Homo sapiens: one gene and its partners. The protein of the gene in region 1 interacts with the protein of each later gene in a biochemical or structural test. Each region holds a gene or a part of one and is shown on either strand. Other genes may lie near its edges.

Evidence for each region. Proteins that work in one complex are often made in the same cells at the same time.
Region 2: the proteins of MEIS2 (region 1) and DRD1 form a complex in vitro, tested with the Homo sapiens proteins (one study listed by BioGRID).
Region 3: the proteins of MEIS2 (region 1) and TLX1 form a complex in vitro, tested with the Homo sapiens proteins (one study listed by BioGRID).

The regions. Positions count from the first base shown.
Region 1 is NC_000015.10:36,887,833-36,895,515, reverse strand, and holds the end of MEIS2 (homeobox protein Meis2), read left to right. Parts: intron 1-254; coding exon 255-365; intron 366-703; coding exon of another isoform or gene 704-762; exon of another isoform or gene 763-799; intron 800-3,056; coding exon 3,057-3,343; 3' UTR 3,344-6,312; downstream 6,313-7,683. UniProt on the Homo sapiens protein: Involved in transcriptional regulation. Binds to HOX or PBX proteins to form dimers, or to a DNA-bound dimer of PBX and HOX proteins and thought to have a role in stabilization of the homeoprotein-DNA complex.
Region 2 is NC_000005.10:175,441,183-175,448,581, reverse strand, and holds the start of DRD1 (D(1A) dopamine receptor), read left to right. Parts: upstream 1-4,399; 5' UTR 4,400-4,883; intron 4,884-4,999; 5' UTR 5,000-5,482; coding exon 5,483-6,823; 3' UTR 6,824-7,399.
Region 3 is NC_000010.11:101,134,300-101,138,289, forward strand, and holds the end of TLX1 (T-cell leukemia homeobox protein 1), read left to right. Parts: coding exon 1-77; intron 78-2,368; coding exon of another isoform or gene 2,369-2,372; exon of another isoform or gene 2,373-2,391; coding exon 2,392-2,614; 3' UTR 2,615-3,490; downstream 3,491-3,990. UniProt on the Homo sapiens protein: Controls the genesis of the spleen. Binds to the DNA sequence 5'-GGCGGTAAGTGG-3'.

The DNA.
Region 1 (7,683 bases):
AGTAAAAAAGCAAGGGCTGCAGAGGACGAACCCCCTGGGAAACTGGCCAGTGAAGTCTTTCTTCCAGAACATTTTTAAAGCTACTCACACACCTTCACTCAGTCATCAAGACACTCAGACAAACCACACCCCCATTTGTAGAGTGCCAACCACATTGTTGCTATAACGTTTCAGTGCTGCAGCGGGAACAATTGCTGATTGTTTGGTATATCTTTTCTTCTTTCTCCTCTGTGTCCTCGAATGACCACAATCAGGTTTTCTTCTTGATCCTTCAGTGAGCCAAGGAGCAGCATATAGTCCAGAGGGTCAGCCCATGGGGAGCTTTGTGTTGGATGGTCAGCAACACATGGGGATCCGGCCTGCAGGTAGGTTGGCTCATCCCGCCTCTGGGCTTCCCTGGGAAGTGCCACCTGCTCCACCAGCCTCTCCATCCACTCTACTATCCCACTGTCATGGTGGGTTTAACATTTGCCTGCTGCCTGCTCTGCCTGCTTTCTTTACATTGGGTGGGGGAAAAAATTCCTCTTTGAAAAAGTAAAGATTTTACCACAGTACCATTATACTCTGCCCCATACACATCCTTTTTCTTTTTTCTTTTTAAACCAAGGCAATAAGTGAAAAGGAATCTGAGTTTCCTTCTATTTTTTCACCATCAATTATTGCTGATTTTCCGGCCTCTTCTTGGATTTTATCTCCTTTCTAGGACCTATGAGTGGAATGGGCATGAATATGGGCATGGATGGGCAATGGCACTACATGTAACCTTCATCATGTAAAGCAATCGCAAAGCAAGGGGGAAGTAAGTACAGTCGGGTGCGATCTGTCTTCACTATCACTTCAGAGACTTTATTTTATTTTTTATAATTTGCCCCCATTTTATTTTTCCTTGCCCATAACTGCATGCCTTTCCAAACTAAGGACCTGTTTTTAAATATATATCACCCATCTCTGAAGTCACAGATGACACTGATGTGCACTTTTGAAAAGGCCAACTGACAAGCCTGCGTGTGTTTTAAGCAGGTGGGACTGCCTTTTAGCCTATTTACTGTGGCCCCAATGTGCACAAACACAGACATCAGGCAGATATTGGACATTTAAGAATAAAAATAATGTCTTGGGGGCACCAGTTGACTGAGAGAAATTAAGCAGGCTTCAATGAAGCGATAAAAAAAAAAAGGAAAAGTAGAACTGTCCTTTGAGTGACATAAATCTGTCAGAATACGATTGATGCCCAAATTATCTTATATGCAAAGATGAAATGCTGCAGTTCATTATGCCTAGTCTAGATATATGACAGCAGTGACACCATTGATTCTTCACTAGGGAGTCGGTGTGTTTTGATTATTTTTTACATGTGCCTACTGACTTCCGACATGAGACAGAAAGACAGGAAAGTCAGTCAATAAATTTAAAGGGAAAGACATTTAGGAGCAACTGAATATGAAGGAATGGATTTTTCACTGAGGCTGAATGGCTGCAGTTGGATTAAGAAACCCATTAGACTTTAAAGCTTCAAGTGTTTTTGACATCTGAAAAAAATTCAGAGTCTGCCAACAAGATATATCCTTTGCTGAAGACACCAGAGCATAAAAAAATTCATATAACATTGAAACTTCCTTGTTTAATGAGGCTGAATATAACAACACGTACCTTGATTAAATCATTCTCTATATGTAAATAGAGGCCAACATTTTATAGGGGAGCTCAGGGGGTCACCACGGCACACCATTGATGAAGCCAATTTCCTTCCTTCCTTCCTTTACTAATGCAGTCAAAAAATGTAGAAAGCAATGTTCCCTAAAACAGCTATAGAGAAAACATTTGCTCAGCTTGGATAGTTCTTAATATAGGCCATATAATTTCTAGCCTATTTAATTACATAACATATTTTATGCTTCATGACCAATTACATTAATAGCTTAATACAGAAGAATATTATCCTCTCTTGATTTGATTATGCAGCCACACAATATGGTATATTTGGTACTTAATTATCATCATCCATTGAGCAGGCTGCTGTGGTAGAATAAACAGAGAGCTGGGACTATGCAGGCTGTGTTATTGTCTTTAGATGGTTTTGCCACTTCTGTTAATAATGGACTGCGGATCTACTTAACAAAATGACTGCAGCATATAAGCCTTTAGATTACCAGCTTACAGTGTCAAAAACATCTGTTCAGCTTTTCAACTGTATGCACTGGAGGTTAAATAGAGGTGAATAAAGCTGTCCTTTTAGATCCGGGGATGTGCAACAGTAAATATAACCTTAATTCAATAAACAGGTAACTTGTAAGAGAAATCAGAATCCTTACAATTGCTGACTTCCCACCATTTAACTCATAACTTTGAATGTTGCATATCTCAATTGAGAATTTCTACATTTATTACATTTTATTCCTAATATCAAGGCATTATTTGGGGGGATTTTCAGAGATAAACTACCGGGCATGTCATATGACCTCACATTGACTTCTTACCTTTGACCTTTACAATCTCTTGGGTGTACTGCTATAGGAATGCCTCTAATTCAAAAAGGGGGCTTCATTTTAAATACACGTAAAAGCTCATTTCTTCAAAATGAATATGCTGTAATGTTTTGTGTAATAAATTTTTCATGAGGAAATATAGATATGATAAGATGTCAATTTTATTTTATTCTACTATCTACAATTTTTGTCCAGGTCTACAAATGCAACACAGAAAAATAAATGATCTATCAACAGTTAACTGATAAAACTCGACTCAAAATTTATATTCTTATTGCATTTATCAAAGAAATGTACTGAATACCATTTTGAAAAACAGTTCCACTTTATGACATTTAGTTGCATTAAATATTTAGTTCTGTTGTGTTGCATTATACTGCTGTGCGATGAAATTAAATGCAAACTACAATTTGAATGTCTGCAAACATTGGCAAGAATCTGCAGCTAAATTTAGGTATAAGATTTGCAGTGTCTGTTGTTTTTTTTTTTTTTTTCTTTTCATCTTTGATGGGTAAAGTATAAAAATGTTTAGGAATTTGACCCGCTTTCTTTTTCCCTCTCTATTTTCAGGTTTGCAGAGCATGCCAGGGGACTACGTTTCTCAGGGTGGTCCTATGGGAATGAGTATGGCACAGCCAAGTTACACTCCTCCCCAGATGACCCCACACCCTACTCAATTAAGACATGGACCCCCAATGCATTCATATTTGCCAAGCCATCCCCACCACCCAGCCATGATGATGCACGGAGGACCCCCTACCCACCCTGGAATGACTATGTCAGCACAGAGCCCCACAATGTTAAATTCTGTAGATCCCAATGTTGGCGGACAGGTTATGGACATTCATGCCCAATAGTATAAGGGAACTCAAGGGAAAAGGAAACACACGCAAAAACTATTTTAAGACTTTCTGAACTTTGACCAGATGTTGACACTTAATATGAAATTCCAGACAGCTGTGATTATTTTTTACTTTTGTCATTTTTCATCAAGCAACAGAGGACCAATGCAACAAGAACACAAATGTGAAATCATGGGCTGACTGAGACAATTCTGTCCATGTAAAGATCCTCTGGAAAAAGACTCCGAGAGTTATAACTACTGTAGTATAAATATAGGAACTAAGTTAAACTTGTACATTTCTGTTGATCACGCCGTTATGTTGCCTCAAATAGTTTTAGAAGAGAAAAAAAAATATATCCTTGTTTTCCACACTATGTGTGTTGTTCCCAAAAGAATGACTGTTTTGGTTCATCAGTGAATTCACCATCCAGGAGAGACTGTGGTATATATTTTAAACCTGTTGGGCCAATGAGAAAAGAACCACACTGGAGATCATGATGAACTTTTGGCTGAACCTCATCACTCGAACTCCAGCTTCAAGAATGTGTTTTCATGCCCGGCCTTTGTTCCTCCATAAATGTGTCCTTTAGTTTCAAACAGATCTTTATAGTTCGTGCTTCATAAGCCAATTCTTATTATTATTTTTGGGGGACTCTTCTTCAAAGAGCTTGCCAATGAAGATTTAAAGACAGAGCAGGAGCTTCTTCCAGGAGTTCTGAGCCTTGGTTGTGGACAAAACAATCTTAAGTTGGGCAGCTTTCCTCAACACAAAAAAAAGTTATTAATGGTCATTGAACCATAACTAGGACTTTATCAGAAACTCAAAGCTTGGGGGATAAAAAGGAGCAAGAGAATACTGTAACAAACTTCGTACAGAGTTCGGTCTATTAATTGTTTCATGTTAGATATTCTATGTGTTTACCTCAATTGAAAAAAAAAAGAATGTTTTTGCTAGTATCAGATCTGCTGTGGAATTGGTATTGTATGTCCATGAATTCTTCTTTTCTCAGCACGTGTTCCTCACTAGAAGAAAATGCTGTTACCTTTAAGCTTTGTCAAATTTACATTAAAATACTTGTATGAGGACTGTGACGTTATGTTAAAAAAAAAAAGGTGTTAAGTCACAAAAAGCGGTAATAAATATTTCATTTTTGATTTTTTGTTAGGCTTTTGCGTTTTTAATGGTTTTAGGACAAGACTGCACAATGCCAACTCTATACAGTGTTAAAAGTAGGTTTTTCCCCCCAGCAGTTGAGTATATTTTAAACTCATCAATAATTTTTAAGGTAATCATCTATAGCCTTTCAATGTCTATTTGACCTATAAGTTCCACCAGCAGAAAACTTCTAAAGGTACGAAACTATGTGTACATGATGAGCCAGGTTGAAAGATCCCCTTGAACATGCTCAACCTCCTTTTTAGATGCATGACGTTAAAAAATATATACTTTCAGATAAAGCTTTTCATGGGCATCCTCTGCCAGAATAAAGGACTTTTCAGGGTTAATTTTACAACATAAGAAATAATGTCTGTGCTCAAAGGTAATTTATCTGCCTGTGTTTTTCCTCTGCCTGTCTTACTACAATATTGTTGGATATGTAAATGAAAATTTACATATGGGTGTTCATAGATAAGTAAACAACTTCTATGGAGTTTGAAATTCTGACTTTAAAAGATTACTTAATCATTAATATTTTATAAATTATATTGTGGTATATTTTTATTTCAGACACATCCATGTGCAGGGATGCTAGTGTGATGATTTGATAACTAAACTTAAACTTTTTTCTGAAAACAAAACAAAACAAAATGGACGGTATAATGCCATTTTCAAAATTTTATGCAACATTCCTGGAAATCTATACCATTAGCTTATTGATACTGCACAAACAATGTCTGCTAAAGTGTGCAAAAAGGGTGAGGCATGTCCCCTCAATTTTCAAATAAATATACTATCCTGGAATTTTTTAACTCTTAAATTTTGAATCTTTGTTTAGAAAGAATAATGTCATATACTTTGGCTAGATATGTGATGTCAACCGGCTAAGGAAATTATTCATCATCTCTGCAAACTTAAACTTGGAAGAAATCCATAGTTATTATTTGGGGCTCTTCCATCTTTCCATTTCAGACAGCATTTATGGAGGTTCTATATAAATGAACGAGGAAATACACTTCTATTGTTTTGTGTTATATTTAGTCAGGTAGAATTTTTACAAATACATTTCAGTTTAAGTGTTGTGTTGCTGTTTAAACATAGAAATAATGCTTCTGACACAAACTAACTTAATAGAGAAATTCAGTGCCACTTGGGAAAGAGAGATAGCTTCCCTCTCATTTTTGCTATTCTATTTTACATGAAGTCTTTTTGTAAATTTTAAATATTTGCCTATTTTTACTTTAAATACTTTTATGTAAACTATGAAAATTCCCCATTATAAATCAACTCTCACATCAGGTGGGAAAAAGAACCTTTTTTTCTTTCCACTCAGTAAATTCTGAAGGGTTTCCTTGGCAATTGGCTCGTGTTTAGGATGTGTTTTATGCAATTATCAAGTTATCTCATTGAAGTTTAGAGACCAGAGCTCTCAACTCTTGGTTTTAATGAATAAAGTCATCTCATGCTTAGTTTATTCGTCAAACCCACGTCCTATCATGTTAACTTTAACCTTCTTAAATATTTGGAGATGAATGATAATTGTAATATTTGTTTGCATTACCTTGCTCTCCCCCACCCCCAACCCCATGATAACACAGAGAAGTGATAGATTTGTCCAATTTTTATAATGCTTTTTTTACACCACCCCGGAAGGCACTTGCTCCTATCTCGGGTTTACTATTTAGTGTAAAGAGTTCCGATTTGGGTATATTTAAGAAAGACTCAGCTGTCAAAAGCAAAGAAACTGGGAATGGTGTTTTGACAACCATATAGTGTTAAAGGAAATACTGTAGTCTGAATAAAATTGCTTATGTTCTCCAAAACAAGAGTAATATAAAAACACTTTTTTATTTATATGAAAAAGCAAAAGCAGAAATAAATTCCAAAGGTTTCCCTTTCTTTAAGAAATTCTGAGAGAACTGCAGTCGCCATCTGTTAAGGGTTGGGAATTGAGCAAGAAGCCACATTTTAAACGAAAAAGAGAGAAAAGACCAGGAAAGTCTGTGTCTTCCGTCCACCCCTCCTCTCTTCCACCCCCTAGGTCAGCACCCCTCACGCCCCTCAGCTCTCACCCTCGTTAGAGTCCACCAGGATCCTCCTGCCTCCTCACCCCCTCCCGCCCCCGCGGGCCTGTTAACCCGGAGCAGATTTGGGAAGGGAAATGTGGCTAATATCTCTAGCAGCTGTCAAAGGAGGGACCTTCCTTCAAAGGGACTGGACAGGGATCCTCCACAAGTTCTCCATTAGCTAGCAGGCCAGCAATTTGATAAGGAGCCTGGACCTCCGCTACAAGTTGCCACTCAGTTAGAAAGTCCGGTGTCCGGGTGTCTGGATGCGCGGAGTGACCCCAGCTTCGCGGCCGCAGCCCCCGCCGCCCACCCAGCGGGGTTGGTGCAGACGTGCGTCCTGGAGCCTAGGAGGAGGCAGGACAGAGGCTTGGGCCGCGGCAGAGGGGCGTGCAGAGGGCTACCCTGGCCCTCACCTGGCCTTCCCTGGGCGCGTGTGTTAGAGTTAGACCAACGTATTGCAAACTATGGGGGCACGGGGGGCCCGTCCCAGTTACAGTTGCAGTCATCAACTCAGGGCGTCGCGCGCCGGGGCGGGCCCCCTCCGTCGGGGCCGGGGCTGGGAGAAAGTGCCGCGCGGGGGAAATGCTGGTCTGATGGGGGAGGCCGGTCAGATTGTGATGAGAATGGAGACCGTCGGGGCAGTGTTTGAAGGGAGGTTTTAATATTAATAGTTTCGGTGTAGAGACAGAAGGGAGATTGCGTCTACGGCTCCTCCGGGCAGACTCTGGGTGACAGGAATGATGGATGATCCGGCAGAGCCCAACAGCTCCTCCCCCCCCAGCCCCAACAGTGTCAAAGCTACTTTAGTTGAAGCTTTAGAAATAAACAGCATCGCCACCCCCCCATACTCTTAGTACACCTCCACCCTCTCCCCCCGCTTTCCGACATCGATTTATGGATCATTATGAATCAATTACTGCCCTCAATACCTTCCCATTGGCTTAAATAAAACAGTTGAAAGATGAAAACGTGGGGTTCTGTGGAGATTTTTTTCCCTGACAAGAACAATCGCAAAATCCATTATCTCATAATCCGAGGCGCTGGGTGAGGAGGTGAAGAGAAAGGACGGGGTCACCCAGTAAATAACTGGGGGGAACGCAGGAAGGGGGGTGTCGCCCAGATGCT
Region 2 (7,399 bases), on another chromosome or scaffold:
GATTTGTTGAAAAGCATCATTTTGACATCCTCCTCTTCGCAGTGCATAAATCACCCACAGTAGAGCTTAAAAGACACACTAAATTGGGAAACAAAGGTGCTTTTGTGTTGGGTTTACATTCTCAGCATGATCTAATACCTGATTGCATTTACATTTGTGTTCTTGAGGTTTGTGGGGGAGATTTTTATAGAACAAAATAGAAGGCTTTGTTTCACCGTAGCTTCAAATAAGAAAATAGGAAAAACTCCAAACCTCTAGCAAAACTGTAAGTTCCTCTGAAATTCACACTCTGTGCAAAGTGAAACACTGAGATTTCAGCTCCATTTTACTCTTTCCTGTTCTCTCAGCAATGACGTTCAAAAGCCAGTGACCTATGTCTGTTAGGAAGGAATCTCAGGCAGTGAGTTATAGAATGATAGACAAACTGGTCCAACCCTCTGGTTTTCCTGGTGATCTTAAACAAAATCACCTCCTTGGTTATTCTCAGGTTCTCTCCTTCTCTACCTGTTAGTCGTTTTTGCTTTGCTGGCTGGGTTTCTGAGCCTTTTTTGTATGTTATGATGTCTAGTCTGTTTTCTGCTACTGTAACAGAATACCACCAACTGGGTAAATTATAAACAATGTAAGTTTATTTGGCTCATAGTTCCTGGAGGCTGGGAAGTCTCAGATCGTGGGGTGGCATCATAACTTGGCAGAAGAAGAGACTACACAAGAGGCAGGGAGGGAATGGAGGCTGAACTTATCCTTTTATCAGGAGCTCTCTCCAGCAGTAACTAACCCACTCCAGAGATAACGAGATAATGGCATTAGTCCACCCAGGAGGGCAGAACCCTTTGGCCTAATCACCTCTTAAAGGTCCCAACTCTTAATCCTGTCACAATGGCAATTAAATTTCAACATGAGTTTTGGCAGAGACATTCAAACCATAGCATATGGGTAGGGAGGAGATTTAATATTGAAATGACAGAAATTTACTTGTGGTCAAGAAATAGCTCTCAATCACTACCAAAATGGTATGTGTTGATTTGATCACCTGGACTTGTCAGATAAATGGGTTGAGAGAAAAAGATAAAGGTCAGTATGGGCTAGTTTGAAATAATTTAGGTGATTTTTCAAGCAAAACAAAAAGGTTTTTTGAGCAGCTGGTGGGCTTGAGAGAAATGAGAATATGAAGTATGTTATGAATGTTCCTTTGAACAAAATTTTGATTAATATTTAAATGTTGTGTCAAATATTTTCCCACTGTTAAACTGCTGTTTTCTTGAGCATGATACCACCTGAAGCCCAGGTGTTGTGCTGTGTTTGTCATCCTTGTTTTTTAATTACAAGAGCAGTGGCATTGTTGTTGGCTCTGAGAAGACTTGGGAATTGGGGGCACTTCTGAAAGGCAGTCATTAGACAGAAATTTTATCCCTCAAATTGGCCTTATCCTTACCTCCAGAGTCTGCTATCTCGATTTTGGGGTGGCAGGGCAGGTAGTGTGTTCTTTTGAGGTTACTTCCTGAAGTACATTTTCTTGCCATATGGAATATTCCTATGGAGTCCTGCTTTGCCCAGTCCAATTCCACTGGCTCATTATCCCACAGATCAGGATCCTACCCGTTCCTGCTTTCCAAGGTTAATGCTGAATTTCTCCTACCTATTTTATTTCTGGGTAGTTTCAGTGGAAAATTGCAGATGCCAGGGTAGAATGTCAGGAGTTAAATGCTCAGGCTTACATGACAAGTCTCGAACCAGAAACATATCTTTAATTTGTGTTTATTAGTAAAAGGGAAAGAAAGAAAATGAAACAAAGTCAAGAAGTTTGGAGAATGACGGCCTTGGGGAAAGTGATCTGAAAGTGTTACGTTAAGCGTGACTTAGGGCTCTACAGAAATGCAGTTCTTGGGGAATGTGTGTGGCAACAATTGCGTCTCTGACCCCCAGTCTGTTGGACGCTGTGTGTGACGGCGAGGCCATGGGTGGGAGGAGACAGCTGTAAGCACAGGCACCGGAGGGTCTGTGCCAGCAATATGGTCCTTTCATCTTAAGCCAAGGTGCCAAAGGCCGGGCGCGATGGCTCACGCTTGTAATCCCAGCACTTGGGGAGGCCAAGGCCGGTGGATCACCTGAGGTCAGGAGTTCAAGACCAGGCTGGCCAACATGGTGAAACCCCATCTCTACTAAAAATACAAAAAATTAGCCGGATGTGGTGGCAGACATCTGTAATCCCAGCTACTTGGGCGGCTGAGGCAGGAGAAGCGCTTGAACCCTGGAGACGGAGGTTGCAGTGAGCTAAGATAGCACCATTACACTCCAGCCTGGGCGACAGAGCAAGACTCTGTCTCTAAATAAACAAACAACCAAAGTACAGTTTGTGCTGGCGAACTAAATGGAATTATTACTTTGGTTTAGGGTTTTTTTTTTTTTTCCCAGAGAAAATTCTTGCTTCTGATATGGTGCATGGCTGTTGTGGAGATTGGACTGTTAGTTTTTTTTTTTTTTTTTTTTTGAGACGGGGTCTCGCTCTGTCGCCCAGGCTGGGGTGCAGTGGCGCGATCTCGGCTCACTGCAAGCTCCGTCTACCGGGTTCACGCCATTCTCCTGCCTCAGCCTCCCGAGTAGCTGGGACTACAGGTGCCTGCCACCACGCCCGGCTAATTTTGTTTTGTATTTTTGCCGTTTTAGCCAGGATGGTCTCGATCTCCTGACCTCATGATCCGCCCTCCTCGGCCTCCCAAAGTGCTGGGATTACAGGCGTGAGCCACCGCGCTTGGCCTGGACTGTTGGTTTGTTAATGGGTCCCAGGGGTTCCTGCCTATGGAGGGCTGACGGGGTCCTAGGTTTGGTGCCAAGCCCTCTGGAAACACCGTCTCAGTTAATAGTTATGACAATCCTGTTATGTCCTCACCGTTTCACAGAGGAAGAACCCGAGCTCAGAGAGGAGAGAGTGCACATGCAGCCGACAGTGGCAGGGCAGGACCAGGAAGTCAGGCAGTGTGACTTGGGGGATCCATGCTTATTCTCCTCCCACCTTTCGGAAGGCACAGGAAGGCACCACAGTGTCGCAATTTATGCACAATTAGTGCAAAGTCTCACCTGTGAGCTTGCCTGGGGCAACCAGGGGAGGCTGGGGGCTCCTTCTCCACCAGGCCCCGCTGCCTCCATATGACTCTTCCCTGTATTTTAGCCCTGTAGGTAATTTTCCAGTTTGTGGGCTCCTGTACCACATGCGGTGAGTTAAAAGAACAGGTGGGCAGCGGCGCGGCTCCCGCGTGAGCTGTGTGACTTTGAGCAGGCCCCACTACCTTTCCGAGCCGCATTTCCACCTGGGCGAAGCGGGTTGAGCCGGCCTGGCGGGGAAAGATTCTTTTAACGGGGGAACAACGTAAGGCGTGCACCGGGGAACACGGATGCTGCTGAGTCAATGCCCGCTCTGCCGTTCTCTTTGAGAGTAAGGCTTGCGTCTCGCCTGCTCTAGCGCCCCAGGTTTGAACGCAGTGGGCGCGCAGGAGGAAACATAGATTCACGAATGCAATGCCAGCAAAGTAAAATTTTTCACCCTTGTCCGTTTTTCAGGGTGTTTCAAGCGGAGGAGTCCTGAGTGGAGAAGATTCCGCTTCCCTGTTTTCAGGTTCTGGCAGTCATGGACCGGGAAGAGCGAGTCGGGGCGCGGGTCCCTGGCGGTCGCTGGAACCCTTGTGAGTGAGGTTGGTGCCCGCGAGGGCACAGCGGGCGCTCGGGAAGTCGCAGCCGCCGGCAGAGGGCGCCCCGGGCACACGGAGCGCGCGGCGCTGGGGTTGGGGCGCTCGGGAGGTGCGGGGCACCGGCTGGAGTCCGGCGTTGACCGCAGCCGGGACGCGCCCGCCACCTGGGCGGGGAAGGAGTGAGTCCCCTCGGGGCGCAGCGGCGCGCGCTGGCCCGGATCCCAGCTGCGCCGCGCCCTCCCTGCGAGCGGTGAGTACAGGCGCCCACGGGCATCTCCAACCCTAGTTAGGGGACACTTGGAGACAACGCAGGTCGGACGTCCGCCGGCCGTTCTAGGAGTTGGTGTGCGGGGAATGGGGGGTGCTCCCGCTCGCTTAGGGCTTTGGGTCCGGCTAGGGGTTGACCCCAAGAGGCGCTGGATGTCGGGGCTGAGCTTTGCTTTCAGGGGACTCAAGCTTACTTGAGGTTCTGACATTGGATTTGCCTCGCGGGCCCTGCGCGTGCTGCGCGGGGATCCGGAGACTGGCGAGGTAACCAGGGAGGGCAAGCACTCACCGGGGCGTCCTCCGCCCACCTCGCCCGCAGAACCATCCAGGGGGACCACGTGCGGCTGTCGCCCGCAACTCTGCCTGTCAAGCGAGGACCGCCCCCAGGGCAGGGGAGGGGACGCGCGGGCGGGGTGGGCTGTGCCCCGCGGGAACCCCGCCGGCCTGTGCGCTTGCTGGTGCCAGCTCGGCTCGCTGCCTCGCATTGCCACAGGCTCCTGAGAGGTCGCGGGCAGTGCCTGCGGGGAGGCGCGGGGCCCTGCTCTGTAGGGCTGAAGGCCGCCCGAGGTTCGCCAAGGCTCTGGGCTCTCGAAAGGAAGCCAAGAAAAGAAGCTGCCCAGGTGACCAGTCCTGGGAGTGCTCTCTCCCAAGGAAGCTCCGAGCGCCCAGGAGCCCTTAGCCGGGGTCTAGTGCCCTTTGAACAATCTCCAGCTCTTCAAGGAAGTGGGCTGCCGCCGCCTCTCTTGGGACCTGGCCTGGGATCCTTTCCCCAAACGCACCCCGGCGATTTTTGCGCACCGGGAGCCGAACCCCTGCTGCGCGCAGCTGGCTGGGCTCAGGCGCGCTTCCTCAACGTTTCGGAGCCGCTGCCCCCAGCGAAGTCCACATTCCAAGCTCCAGGGGCTTTGAGAGAGACGACCCCAAGGCAAGGTAGGTGGCTCGGACGGGCTCGCCCTGGGAATTATTAGGTTGGGCTTGACGTGAGTAATGATGCCATCTGCTTAAGTCTTGGAGAAAGACCGTGTGTTTTCCTTTTGCTTTTTAAGGCGTTTGGAGAGCTGCTGAGGAGCCAGGGGCTTGGAGGAGCGAGAAGACATGTATTTTCAGCTGAGTCTCAGAAGGGGAGAATCTCCTGTCACCACCAGAAAAGCAACAGCCCCGAAATGTGATTGCAACTGACTAGCAGAGCAGAGGCCCAGGAGTCACTGGATTGATGATTTAGAATATGCTAAAAAGCCAGTGCTTTATTTGGGGAATTCAGGGGCTTTCTGGTGCCCAAGACAGTGACCTGCAGCAAGGGAGTCAGAAGACAGATGTAGAAATCAAGAGTGACCATCCACGGGATTGACTTGGATTGCCACTCAAGCGGTCCTCTCATGGAATGTTGGTGAGGCCCTCTGCCAGGGAAGCAATCTGGCTGTGCAAAGTGCTGCCTGGTGGGGAGGACTCCTGGAAATCTGACTGACCCCTATTCCCTGCTTGGGAACTTGAGGGGTGTCAGAGCCCCTGATGTGCTTTCTCTTAGGAAGATGAGGACTCTGAACACCTCTGCCATGGACGGGACTGGGCTGGTGGTGGAGAGGGACTTCTCTGTTCGTATCCTCACTGCCTGTTTCCTGTCGCTGCTCATCCTGTCCACGCTCCTGGGGAACACGCTGGTCTGTGCTGCCGTTATCAGGTTCCGACACCTGCGGTCCAAGGTGACCAACTTCTTTGTCATCTCCTTGGCTGTGTCAGATCTCTTGGTGGCCGTCCTGGTCATGCCCTGGAAGGCAGTGGCTGAGATTGCTGGCTTCTGGCCCTTTGGGTCCTTCTGTAACATCTGGGTGGCCTTTGACATCATGTGCTCCACTGCATCCATCCTCAACCTCTGTGTGATCAGCGTGGACAGGTATTGGGCTATCTCCAGCCCTTTCCGGTATGAGAGAAAGATGACCCCCAAGGCAGCCTTCATCCTGATCAGTGTGGCATGGACCTTGTCTGTACTCATCTCCTTCATCCCAGTGCAGCTCAGCTGGCACAAGGCAAAACCCACAAGCCCCTCTGATGGAAATGCCACTTCCCTGGCTGAGACCATAGACAACTGTGACTCCAGCCTCAGCAGGACATATGCCATCTCATCCTCTGTAATAAGCTTTTACATCCCTGTGGCCATCATGATTGTCACCTACACCAGGATCTACAGGATTGCTCAGAAACAAATACGGCGCATTGCGGCCTTGGAGAGGGCAGCAGTCCACGCCAAGAATTGCCAGACCACCACAGGTAATGGAAAGCCTGTCGAATGTTCTCAACCGGAAAGTTCTTTTAAGATGTCCTTCAAAAGAGAAACTAAAGTCCTGAAGACTCTGTCGGTGATCATGGGTGTGTTTGTGTGCTGTTGGCTACCTTTCTTCATCTTGAACTGCATTTTGCCCTTCTGTGGGTCTGGGGAGACGCAGCCCTTCTGCATTGATTCCAACACCTTTGACGTGTTTGTGTGGTTTGGGTGGGCTAATTCATCCTTGAACCCCATCATTTATGCCTTTAATGCTGATTTTCGGAAGGCATTTTCAACCCTCTTAGGATGCTACAGACTTTGCCCTGCGACGAATAATGCCATAGAGACGGTGAGTATCAATAACAATGGGGCCGCGATGTTTTCCAGCCATCATGAGCCACGAGGCTCCATCTCCAAGGAGTGCAATCTGGTTTACCTGATCCCACATGCTGTGGGCTCCTCTGAGGACCTGAAAAAGGAGGAGGCAGCTGGCATCGCCAGACCCTTGGAGAAGCTGTCCCCAGCCCTATCAGTCATATTGGACTATGACACTGACGTCTCTCTGGAGAAGATCCAACCCATCACACAAAACGGTCAGCACCCAACCTGAACTCGCAGATGAATCCTGCCACACATGCTCATCCCAAAAGCTAGAGGAGATTGCTCTGGGGCTTGCTATTAAGAAACTAAGGTACGGTGAGACTCTGAGGTGTCAGGAGAGCCCTCTGCTGCTTTCCAACACACAATTAACTCCGTTTCCAAATACATTCCAGTGTATTTTCTGTGTTGTTCATAGTCAATCAAACAGGGACACTACAAACATGGGGAGCCATAAGGGACATGTCTTTGGCTTCAGAATTGTTTTTAGAAATTTATTCTTATCTTAGGATTTACCAAATAGGGCAAAGAATCAACAGTGAACAGCTTCACTTAAAATCAAATTTTTCTGGGAAGAAAATGAGATGGGTTGAGTTTGCTGTATACAAACAGGTGCTAACACTGTTCCCAGCAAAGTTTTCAGATTGTAAAGGTAGGTGCATGCCTTCATAAATTATTTCTAAAACATTAATTGAGGCTTACAGTAGGAGTGAGAAATTTTTTTCCAGAATTGAGAGATGTTTTGTTGATATTGGTTCTATTTATTTATTGTATATATGGATATTTTTAATTTATGATATAATAAATA
Region 3 (3,990 bases), on another chromosome or scaffold:
GCCGCCCTGGCCAAGGCGCTCAAAATGACCGATGCGCAGGTCAAAACCTGGTTCCAGAACCGGCGGACAAAGTGGAGGTGAGCAAGCGGGGCGGGCCGGCCGCCCGCGAGCGGCGCGGTCTCAGGCAGCTCTCGGTTCATTGGCCTCTCGTGGGGCGCACATACTTTTTCCGCTCGCGGTTTCTGATCCTTTCGGAGGAGCGAGCTCCCGCTAGGCTTGCGGGGAGCTGGAAGCAACCGAGGCCGATAGCTGGGATGGGGCTGAAGAGCCCTGGCTCTGTTTTACCGGAGGCTTCAGGGCTTTCTGGTTGGCACACTCTCTGCCGGTGTAGACGCGGCAGGTCTATTCCGCCGCTTGGGCAAACAGGCGGGTTAGTGCACTCCACGCAGTCCAGGCTCCAGGGATCTGTGAGTCCTGGGGAGCTTTTTGTTTGCGCAAACTCTTGCTTATGGAATCCTGCTCTGTCCTGGAGACTGGATGCAGAACAGCCCGCACCTTGTTGCAGCGCTCCAGCCGGGCTCCCGGCAGAGGGTCTGTGGCCCCAGACCGCGGCCCTGCTGACGGTCTCCTCCCCCAGACACCCGGCCTTTGCGCAGCCGGTCCCTACCCTGGAAGGAGAAAATCAATCCGCGCCGGCTGCGGCGGGGTTTCGCGGGTCCCACTGGAAGGGGAATCAATTAGGAGCAGATGGGTGTGTGTGAGAAAGAGAATTTTCCTTCTCCCATAGCCACAACTCTAGTTACTACGCAATGGGCTTTTTGTTTTGTTTTGTTTTTTCACATTTACGCTCACGGACGTGAAGCGTCCCCAACACTCTCGAGCAGCCTCCCTCTCCGCGCGCACTGACGCTTTCTCCGGCTGCACCCTCTGGCACGCTGCACCCTCTGGCACGCTGCACCCTCCCGCACATCTGGCCCTTGCCCGCCGGAGTTTCTCCCCTAGCTCAGGCCCCATGGGGTAGCGCGGGAGAGTCTGGGCGAAGTCGGCGGCGCCGAGACGGGCGGGCCTTGGGGCAGGAGGAAGGAATTGGAGTTTCCTCTTTTTCTGAACGAAGGCGAGGAATCTGCCTGGGATTCCGCCTACGGGGCCACAAAGGAAGCCATGGCCCCACGATTCTACCACAACATTTCTGACGCTGGGAAAGGAGTGGGGGATGCGGCCTCAGACCTTGGAACGCTAAAGAGGGAGCCAGGGCTAGCTCGGGGGTTGGGGGGACTCCGGTTTCCAAGGCCTACTGAGGGCTGCTGGCCTAGGGGAGGAGAGGCAGCCTGGCAGGCCTCCCAGAGAGAGGGGCACAGAGAAAGAAAGAGGCAGGCAAAGAGAGAAACTGAAACACAACCAGTTTCAGAGGTGGAGAGGGATAGGGACCCCGCTCAAGGAAAAAAAAGGAGAAAAACAGGCAGCCTGCAGAAGTCTTATTTATGTATAATAAAGAAAAAGCAATGGATGACTGAAACCACCATTTTCTTTTCAAACAAATTCCTTTAATTCAGAGAGAACCAAGTGGGTGGGGAGGAGAGAAAACGAGAGATAAGACACAAAGCCTAAAAGAGAAATATTCAGGCCGTTTGAAATGCAGGGGATAAGGGAAAGACGAAAGACGGAAAGATACACAGAGTCAAGAAAAGGCGGCCCAGAGCAGGTCAGCAGCCGCTGCTGGAAGAGGCCCTTGCAGGCTTCGCATGGCTTCATCGATCGCCTACAAATTGCTTCTGAAGGCCCCAGGGACTCCCATTAGGTCTGTCCACCTTAGAGACAGACGTTTGATCTCAGTTGACAGGGTGGAGGGGCGGCAGTAAATGGAATAAGTGAGTCATCGCCTCCCTGAACTGCCTCAGAGGAAGCCAGTGGGTCCAGCAGGAGCCCCGGTAGGGCACAGGGCTCCACACAGAAGGCCCAAGTCCTAGAAGACATTCGCAGAGAGAGGGAGGAAAGAGACGTCCCGCAGAGCAGATCGTACCCGCTGGTCCTTGCCTCTCTGCCCTGGACTTGTGGGTAGGGTGAGGGCCCTCTGGCTTGGAATGGCACCTGGTCTCCCTCAGGGCCGGGGAGGGGGAGGCGAGATGCCATCCTACCCCGGCTGCCCCTTGTGAGGCCTCCGGGGTGTGGGCGCTGCGCGTGGATGCGAGTCCCAGCTGTTTGGGCCTCGCAGACTTTCCCATCGCTCCTCCTCTGGGATACCTTGGCTCCATCCGCTTTGGGGTTTCCAGTCTTTGTTGGAGTCAGGACTCTCAAAAGAAGGGAACGCGTTATAGGGGCCCAAACTGGATTTGGGGACTGCAAAGGCGAGCAGCGCTCGTTCAGTTTATCTCCTGGGAACGCACCAGGAGTTGGGCACACGCGGGAGCTGGGTCGGTGCTCCTGGCAGGTAACGGCTTGTTCCCGGTGCAGACGGCAGACTGCGGAGGAACGGGAGGCCGAGAGGCAGCAAGCGAACCGCATCCTCCTGCAGTTGCAGCAGGAGGCCTTCCAGAAGAGCCTGGCACAGCCGCTGCCCGCTGACCCTCTGTGCGTGCACAACTCGTCGCTCTTCGCCCTGCAGAATCTGCAGCCGTGGTCTGACGACTCGACCAAAATCACTAGCGTCACGTCGGTGGCGTCGGCCTGCGAGTGAGCCTGCCCATTCTGCCCTGTGGGACCCCAGGCCCACTCAGGGGTCACTGAGGCCTGAGACCCAGGACTCCTCCCCACCCTCCTGGCCTCAGACTGCACCCAGGAGGGGAACACTGCCCTCGCACGGCCCCGAAGGGCCCCCACATTTGTGCCGACACTGTTCTCCCTTCGGTGGAAGAGCTCAAGGGACAAGGACACGCGCCCCCCTCCCAGAGGCGTCCCGCACCTGTCTGAACTGTTAAGAAATCTGTTTTTGTTTATTTCATTTTATTTTAATTTTTAACGTGGGATTCAGAGAAAGGCAAGGGAGGTAAGGGAGGAGGAGCTTCTGGGGTCCCCAGGGCTGTCATCTGAATTTGCCCTGGGAAACCCCTTCTCTGTGACCCACTTCTCATCACACACATGGAAACCCATAGGCCCACACACAGGTGGTGTCACTGTCCCTCCTGGTGTCACCCCAGAGCCACACATGGGCATCTATGGGAGAGTGTCAACCAGACAGAGGGTCACAGTGTTTACACTTTGGACCTTACGATCAGGCACAGGTCAGGGGTGACACAGACTCATCCTGAACAGCATGGCACTCCCTCCAGCACAAACACAAGGTCATGGCCACACTGTGACACACTACACCACACACAACAGCCAACAGCTACAACAGCCTCACTTGGTCTGCCAGGCCCCCACCACACATCCCAGCCCAATCCAGGTACGCACAGACAGGTTTTCACATAAATGCAGCCCATTTCTCCAGAACCCATTTGAGGGGTGGGGGGGTGTTAATTTATGCACTTATAAGGTGTTTTCTGTGTAACCATTTTATAAAGTGCTTGTGTAATTTATGTGAAAAAAATAAATAAAAGCCTCCGGATCCGGAGTCAGGGCTGCCTGCTCCTTGCGGACCCTAGCGTCCTTCAGCTACTTGGGTTTGGTGTGTGAGCTGATGCTTCAGGGGCAGCCCTTGGTACCTGAACTTGAGAGACATGTTGCGGGGCAGGACCCTAAGGCTCTGGAGAGAGGAAAGGAAGAGGACAGATGGAGAGAAGGCAGAGTTGAGGAGAGCAGGGAGAGCCAGGCTCTCCTGGGATTACCAGTGCCTGAGAGGATGTGGATTTCTTTGGATGTGAGAGTCGTGTGTGTGTGTGTGTGTGTGTGTGTGTGTGTGGTGTGTTTGTGATAATGTGAGCAATCAGCAATGCGAGCAAATAGTGAATATTTATAATGGTATTTAAGTGTATAATTGTGTTTGCAATTCTTGCGTGTAAATGCTTGTTTCTGCTTAAGTTGCAAATCGAAACTATCATTGTATGCACGGGCTTGTAGTGGTGTGTGTGTAACCGTATGTGAATGTGACTGTTTCTTTTTGGGTAATTGTGT